Linked DNA regions of Homo sapiens: all the other regions are linked to region 2. Evidence: fine-mapped expression QTL. A gene starts in region 2. Each other region holds a variant in brackets. All regions are shown on one strand. Distances are between the middles of the regions.

The links. PIP is the estimated chance that this variant, and not a neighbour inherited with it, causes the effect.
Region 1: its variant is fine-mapped to the expression of ZHX2 in caudate (GTEx, PIP above 0.99).
Region 3: its variant is fine-mapped to the expression of ZHX2 in whole blood (TOPMed, PIP above 0.99). The same link has a PIP of 0.9 or more in CD4 T cells and neutrophils.

Annotation. Positions count from the first base shown.
Region 1 is chr8:122,836,620-122,839,375 of GRCh38, reverse strand. The region is part of intron 1 of ZHX2 (zinc fingers and homeoboxes 2); the gene reads right to left. Among named protein-coding and RNA genes, the nearest start is that of ZHX2, 56 kb to the right of the region's middle. RefSeq lists enhancers at 927-1,758, 2,406-2,756. The variant T/A (reference allele first, on the strand shown) is at 1,595.
Region 2 is chr8:122,780,161-122,782,916 of GRCh38, reverse strand. It overlaps ZHX2 (zinc fingers and homeoboxes 2), which reads right to left and starts at 1,262. Exons shown (of 4, transcript NM_014943.5): 1 at 971-1,262. ZHX2-AS1 (ZHX2 antisense RNA 2) reads left to right here and starts at 1,313. Exons shown (of 2, transcript XR_007061082.1): 1 at 1,313-2,744. RefSeq lists silencers at 131-260, 481-550 and enhancers at 601-650, 1,818-2,317, 2,318-2,756.
Region 3 is chr8:122,973,176-122,975,931 of GRCh38, reverse strand. ZHX2 (zinc fingers and homeoboxes 2) reads right to left here. Exons shown (of 4, transcript NM_014943.5): 4 at 1,422-2,690. Among named protein-coding and RNA genes, the nearest start is that of DERL1, 68 kb to the left of the region's middle. The variant T/C (reference allele first, on the strand shown) is at 1,523.

The DNA.
Region 1 (2,756 bases), 56 kb before region 2:
CGAGAGGCTGTACCAGCTAAAAATATAAACAAGTGGAAGAAGGGTTTAGATGAACTCATGGGTGAGTGAATGATGGGGTGAGGGAAGTTGGAAATGTTCAGATTTTGTCCATTGCTTGTGCAACCTGCTCTGTTCTCTGTTAGCAATAGAATACTTGGCTGAATGGAGTGCGGATGGGCCCACAGAGAGCAATGCCACATTCTAGTGTGTGCCCAAGATAAAAAAAGAAGGAAGGGAAAAAAAAAGTAATGAGGGTATAGTGGGGTTCCCTGCTCCAACATATAACTTCTATAATCATACACGAAAAACCCTTTGGAATACATGTAGAAATGAAAGAAAGAAAAATAATAATTTCTGATTTGATCTCTAAAGATCTCAACTTTGTTAACATTTTGCTGTAATTTCATCATGCATTATGTGTTTTTCTTAAATAAAAACTATATATACAGTATGAATCCTGCATTTTTCATTTAACATTTACCACTTTAAAAAAATCACATTGGCCAGGCATGGTGGCTCACGCTTGTAATTCCAGCACTCTGGGAGGGCAAGGCGGGCAGATCATGCGGTCAGGAGTTCCAGACCAGCCTGGCCAACAGGTGAAACCCCGTCTCTACTAAAAATACAAAAATTAGCTGGGTGTAGTGGCACGTGCTTGTAGTCCCAGCTACTCGGGAGGCTGAGGCAGGAATGAATCGCTTGAACCTGGGAGATGGAAGTTGCAGTGAGCCGAGATCGAGCCACTGCACTCCAGCCTGGGTGACAGAGTGAACTCTGTCTCAAAAAAAAAAAAAAAAAAAAATCACATTACTAAATACTGTAGACTTCATATATGATCGAAAGGTTTCTACCACGTATTTAACCATTTATTTATTTAATTGTTTAATTATCGTACTATTCACCTCTTGTTGAACCTTGTTTTCTTTTCCCAGTTTTCTGCTGTATAAACACGCTGGGACTGACATGCCTCGTTACTTCTTTTTGGAGAAATAACAATAAATCTCCAAATCTCAGAGTAGAACATGTAATGAGTTTCTCTTACATAGACAAAGGGCATGTGAGGGATGGGCACACGAGGAATATTCGCCAGGGTGTCTGTGGTGACTTGATGTAATACCATTTTTAAACGTTCCTTGATACCCAGGAAGTGCCCCTGGCACCCCACTGTGCTGTGCTTTCTGCTCTCTTCCCACAGCTATTTGTTTTTGTAGAAGATTCTTCCCTTGCTCTGCAAACTGAGAGCACTTGGAGAGCTACAGAGATGTGCAGCCACTGGGCTAAAGCACACCCAGACGGGGCTCTTATTAGAAATGCAAATCTCCTCTCTGCTGACAAATCCCAAACACAAAGCTCAACGGGCTCTTCCACCCTCCTCTCCCCTAAGCGGGTGGCCTCTGTCTTCCATGTTACCTGAATGAGCTGAAAGGGAGTTGGCTGGGTTGTGGATCAGTAATCTGAGAAGGAAAGGGTCTGTCTGAAATGGAATTGTCTCCCCAGTGTTTCCATTTTACCCAATAAGAGGAAGTCAGTCTCTTTCTTCTCAGCCTTAACTCTACTAAAAGCCATTAAGCACCGACAAAGACAGGAGACATTA[T/A]CTGTTGGCAAGTGTGAATGCTGCATTCTGTACCTCCAGCAGGGATGGAAATTGAGCTGTTTACTTGGTGGCCACCCCAAGGGACTGAAATGAAGCTCTAATGTGACAGCATTTCTGAAATGCCAGTTTTAAATCCCAAATTCTCACCCTCTATTCCCCACCTGTAAAACGCACTAGGAATTTGCACTATTAGCACTATTAATTTAGCCGAATTACACCCTGACTAGATCTGACCACCAGATGCAAATGAAGTCACCAGTAGGTGACCACAGTAACCTGGGTCTGGTTTTGGAAAGGAGGGTGGGTGTTTGAAACCTGTAGGGGTAGTGGCAGGACCAGCTTATGGAATAACTTTCCTTATTACAAGTGACTTCCAGGATGGGGCTCACGATTAGAGATGGGGGTCTGGAACCCATTGCTCAGATGGGGTTTCCTTTGATGGTCAGTAATACAGTTACTGGAAAGGGGTCCAGATCTAGATCCCAAGAGAGGGTTCTTGGATCCTGCACAAGAAAGAATTCAGGGCGAGTCCATAAAGTGAAAGCAAGTTTATTAAGAAAGTAAAGGAATAAAATAATGGCTACTCCATAGGGGTTGCCCATTTTTATGGTTATTTCTTGATGATATGCTAAACAAGGGGTGGATTCTTCATGCCTCCCCTTTTTAGACCATATAGGGTACCTTCCTGACGTTGCCATGGTGTTTGTAAACTGTCATGATGCTGGTGGGAGTGTAGCAGTGAGGATGACCAGAGGGTCACTCTGGTCAAAATCTTGATTTTCGTGGGTTTGGGCCAGCTTATTTACTGCAAGCTGTTTTATCTGCAAGGTCTTTATGACCTGTATCTTGTGCGGACCTCCTACCTCATCCTGTGCCTTAGAATGCCCTAATTGTCTGGAAATGCAGCCCAGTAGTGTAAGATTCTCCCTGGGGCCTGAAAGCTTAAGGGGATGAATAACTCCTCCCTTCTCAGGCCCAGTACCAAGGCGCAAGCCTTGCGCCAGCAGTGTGGGCCAGCAAAATAGCAGAAGCAGGAAGAAAGCCGGCCGGAAGACACCTACCCTGGCTGGAAGACACGTACCCGTGAAGATCAAGAAAGAGGCCATCCAGGTACAACGTAGCAGTTACGTCAGACTAGGACACTTCCTGTTTACAGGAGACT
Region 2 (2,756 bases):
GGATACAAGTCCTGGGGAAGCCACAAAGAAGCTGCAACACCAACAAAGATTAACCTCTTGTGGGGCAGACGAAAAGCGCCAGCTGCCGTTCAGGGGGGCGAACGTGGGCTCGGGCTGGCAGAGGCTCCGGCCAGCTGGCAGCGGACAGCAGGGCCGGGGGTCCCGCGGCCGCCCTCGGCCCCCCGCCCCGCGCGGACTCCCCCTGCACCTGAGCGGGGGTGAGGACAGCGCCGCGCTCCGGCCCTGCCCCCGCCAGGTAGCTCGGCTGCCGCCCGCGCTGCGCGCCCGCTGCCTGCAGCCGCCGGGAGCGACGAGAGCAGAGGCAGCCTCGGCCCACGGCGTCATGCTTCCTGCCACCACATTACGGCGAATCGTCACCGGGAGAGGGGAGCGAGGGGAGAGGGGGAGGGAGGGGAGCAGACACACGCAGCCCCCCGCCTGCCAAAACGCGCGGAGACGGGGCCACGTCCCGGTGGAGTCCCCGCGGGACCTGCCCCGTTTGCACAAAGCGCCGCAGTTTGGCCAAGAAGGGAGGGAGACGGCCACGAAATAAATAAATAAAAACAGTCGGGTCTACGTAACGCCCTGTCGAAAGCGGACGCCATATTTTTTTGTGGCTTATGTCGACATAGGGAAACGTAGACATGTTTTTCCTCCTCCTCCTCCTCCTCCTCGCTCTGGCTCCCATTTATCCAAACTTGTAATCAAAACTCTTAAAAAAAAAATCTTCTTCCCTCTCTGTATCCGCTCATTTCCTCCCACCCGCAAAAAGAGCCTGCACACCCCCCCCCTTCCGTACCCCCCTTCCAATCACAAACCCGGCCAAGTCCCATTAACAACACATTTTCGGGAGCCGCGGCGGCGACGGCGGCGGTGGGAAAGTTGGGCTGGAGTGGCCGGCGCCCGGCGTGCGGGGTTTGGGGCCGGCGGCGCCGGCTGGGGGGCTCCGCGCCGAGGCGAAGTTTCTTACCTGCGCTGGGGCTGTGAACGCGGGGACCCGGGCTGGGAACGCGGAGACGCGGCACGGGCGTTCCAAAATGGAACTCTGCTGGCTCCCCCCACCCACTCCCCACTCCCCACCGGGCGCCCGGCTCGGGCTCCGTGGGAAAGAGGGGGAAAGCCAGCCTGCCAGCCAGACAGACAGACAGAAAAAGCCCCCGTACGGAGAACGATGGCCAAAATTTTTAAAAGAAAAAAAAAAAGGAAAAAAAAAGGGAAAAAAAATGCCTCGATCAGTGGGGAATCTACGCCAAAACCCACATGATCTGTAACGTCAGCATGCGTATTTGCATACGATACCACCACCCGAGCTGCCACCCGGGCTCGGGTTCCGCAGAAAGTTACAAAGTGAAATTCAGCCCCCTCCGGAGACACCGGCGAAATGTCATTTTTCAGGCAGGAGCTGGGGGGGAGGCTAGCCCTAAAGGCGCTGGTTACTGGCCAAGGTAGGGGGGCAGTAAATTAACTTAAAAGTCTGAGCCCAGTAACGGACTCGGTGGAATTTCTGCGAGAAGAGGAGGGGGAGGCGCGAGCGAGATCATTGAATATTAAGCACGACCCCGCGCGGCGGCCGCGGCCAAACCGTCTCCGTGCAATACCCATTTTCTTTATGAAAAGTTCAAGGTGTCACTGATGAGCTCAACAAACTGTTGATCTTGACCACGTGGAGTGGCGGACCGTGGGACCGAAGGGCGCGCTTGCAGGCCCGGCTCTGGCGGTACCCGGGCCCCGGGACCCTTTGCGTGGGACTGTGCGCGGGTGGGGCCACCACGCACCCTGGGCGCTGCCTGCGCCTTGGCCCGGCTTCAGGCTCAGGAAAATAATAATAACGATTTTAAAACTATGTTGAGCGAGACACATTTTACTCCCGGAATGATAATGAGAAGGCTCGGCGTAGGGAGGGGAAGAAGGAGCCCCCCACTTATATAACGACTTGAAGTTATATCACTTTTGCTTGGGGAGATTCCGGGATTTCCGCCCGCGCCAGGTCTGAGGCTGGTTAAAGATCTTCAAACTTTTTTCCCTTAAGAGCCAATAAACAAACAGACGCCCCAGGGGCCGACTTAAACTCTGGTAGAGCCCGAGTTCGCTGGAATTCTCAGATTCGAAGAAATGCACACGCCTGCGGTGCTCGCAGAGAAGTCCCTCGGAAGCTAGGCGGGTCGCTTTCGCAACTGGGACTCCAATGTTCCCAGTGGGAGCGGAGCTCTCACCGCGGCAGCCCCCAGGTTCCCCTAGGCGCCTTAGAGCAAAGGTGGCGGGGGATCGCGCTGCCCTTCGCCCGCCGGCTCGGAACCATGAACTTGTATTCCGGGCGCCGCGCTCCTGCCACAGTGCTCGGCTAAAGAGCTCTAAGGAATTCGGGATCTGGGTACACTTCGGGATCTCAGGCGGCAACCTGTCTGCGCCGCGCATTCCTGCCCAGATGTACCTTGTTTCCCCCTGGGCTGGCCTGTGGACTCTTGGGCAGCTCCCGGGCGGGGACGAGGGGATGCGGTCTGGGGGCTAGTTTAGAAGCTTCGAGCGCAGCGAGAAAACAAAGGGAGCCTGGGGCTGGGAGGCTCTGCGGAGTCCCCGCCCGCCCTGCAGATTAGCAGGCGCGTCGCGTCGGGGCTTCCCGGGCAGCTCTGCTCTGGGGAATTAGAACGAACTCTAGCGGCCGTTTGCAACTCGGCTGTGGGCGCGAGGGCATCAACAGGTGGCCGTGTGCAGCGGAGAGGCCAATGGCGAGGACCCGGACTGGGGTGAGGACGGCT
Region 3 (2,756 bases), 190 kb before region 2:
ATACCACCACACCCAACTAATTTTTGTATTTTTAGTAGAGACAGGGTTTCACCATGTTGGTTAGCCTGGTCTCGAACTCCTGGCCTCAAGTGATCCGCCCGCCTCGGCCTCCCAAATTGCTGGGATTACAGGTGTGAGCCACTGTACCTGGCCTATTTTTATTTTTGAATCGCTGTCTACATTCAACTTTGCTGAGTGGTAAAGAGAATTAGCGGAATTTTGGAGAGGTGTAAAGTTATGGAAAATCTATGGCCCCTGCTCTCAGCTTGGGGGAATCGACAAGCTGACCAAATGAATCCGAGAGCTGTGTGGTGAGGGCTATGTGCAGAGAGGGTGTCATGGGAGCCCACAGGATGGGGGACTGAGGGAATCCCCCAGAGAAGGCCAGGCCCTTTTGAATCTTGAATTTTTCAGTGTTTCCTGTATTTTGGGAAGTGGGTCTTTCCCGTTATCTGTAGAATAAACACATGCTAAGTTTAGATAAACTGGCCAAAAGTCTGTAAGTTCCCGTAAAAATGAACCATCTAGACCAGAGGTTCCCAAGGTGAGGAACTTGTTAGCAATGCACATTCTCGGTTCCCACCCCAGACATGCCGATCAGACAGTCTAACCAACCTTCCAGGTGATGCTGGTGCCCACTCATGTTTGAGAACCACTGGTCTAGACGAGTGTCAGGTGTGAAGAGTGAGGGACTCTTTAAACCTCACCAGGGCAGAGATACTTAAAAGCCACCTTCTCAGAGAAATGGCAGTGCCCCAGCTACCACTCGCCAGCAGCCCAGGGAGGGGGAGCGACTTAGCTCAGGTCATCCAAGGGCGAGCCTGTGCACAGAGGGGCTTCTCATTCCCACTCTGAAGCTCTTCTCTTGACTATTTTATGAATCTATTTGTGAGACCCGGGAGAAGGAAGGGCCTATACCTTCCTTCTCTGTGTCGATGAGATCTGCTGAAGATTCCTACAACACTTACATCCAGTTTTTTTTCGGTGGGGGGAGGGAGGGGACAAAGTTTCACTCTCGCTGCCCAGGCTGGAGTGCAGTGGCGCCATCTTGGCTCACCGCAACCTCCGCCTCCTAGGTTCAAGCGATTCTCCAGCCTCCTGAGTAGCTGGGACTACAGGTGCACACCACCACACTCAGCTAATCTTTGTATTTTTAGTAGAAATGGGGTTTCACTATGTTGGCCAGGCTGGTCTTGAACTCCTGACCTCAGGTGATCCACCCGCCTTGGCCTCCCAAAGTGCTGGGATTACAGCGTGAGCCACTGCGCTGGGCCTACGTCCCATTTTTAAAGTCCAGTTTGCGATGTCAGATCCCTCCAGGATGGAAAATGAATTTGAAACGGGAGGTATCCAAGTCAGAACCCTTACACCAAGCCCTCGGGAGCCAGACGACAATAAAGAAGGCGAAGTAGAGGAAAAGGTTATAAAAATGTTTAGTCTTTGCTTTATTGAGTTACAACAAATGAGCAACAAGTTAGAAAAATTGGTTTTATTCAAACTTCCTAGCGTTTGACTTGTGCGG[T/C]GTACTCAAATGGGGGGCAGTGTGGGACGGGGAGGGATTGCAACCAGAGTTCATACTGCAACACGTACACCAGATATGTCTCTTGGTTTTCCTTCTTTTAAAAGTTAGGACTAACTGAAAAAGTGCACTCAGGTATCTAAAATTGTCCCAAAACAAACACACACACAAACAAAAAAAATCAATTCATGGTGAGGCTTTGAGCTAAAATCTTGTCAAATACCACACCGAGAAAAGGCAGTGAAGAAGAGAAATGAAAACCAAAGCCATTCACCTCTGTACCCTCCAGATAGGAAGATCTTATTGTTGTTGTTTTAATGTCACAATAGTACTGATCATGCTAACAGAGGCGGGAGCCTCTTCTGCTGGTATTTAGAAAGGTGCTTAAAGAAGTCAGCCACCTGCTACCCAGTTCTCCCAGGGCTGGCTGGGCACAGCCTGGCCCAAGAGGCCGAGCAGTTGAGAAGCCAGATCCCCTCTTGGCAGTTCAGAAAGCCTTGTGTGGGGCTAAGGCAGGGACCCCCAAAAAGGCAGCCAGGGGAAGAACTGGAAAGGAATTTGATTTGGAAGATCTGCCGTCTGTCACCTCTCTCCAAGTTGAGACAGGGGCCTGGATTTCAGCCCTTCCTGCCGAGAAATCTCCCAAATTTCAACCTACCTTTAAAAATAAAGTCTCCCTACTTAAAATCCAGTAGATATCATGGCACTAATGCTAACACCCCTTTCCCCAAATTAATAAAACAAAAATAAAAAAAAGAAAAAGAGAAAAGAGAAAAGCAAGGTGGTTAGCCCTCCCTCCTGAAAAAAACCTTACAATGGTAGTGCTGGAAAAGGAAGTTGCCCTTGATTAAAAAGGTAACAAAATTCCCACATTGTACAAATCGGTTCCAGTATAGCAAGAGGTGAGGGCTAGGGCAGAGGAGCAAACTATGTACAAGGACCCATTGAAAACGCAGTAGTAGGACTTTGGCACTATGAACAATTCCCACCGGTCCTCTGGGAGGTGCGTCTGAGAGTCGCTGGACTTCCCGCACCCTCCAGGCACACGCGAGCTAAGTAGTTCCACTTGGAGTCACTGGCAAGGGTGGCCCATGGCTGGGGAGAGACCATCTCTTCTTTCTTCAAAGACGGAGCGTCCCGTTGATCAGCACAGCAGTTCTAACAGACTTCCCTAGAAGACACAAAACCACAGAGTCAAGATGTCAGGCAAATGACCATTGTTCCCTGGGGGGAAGGC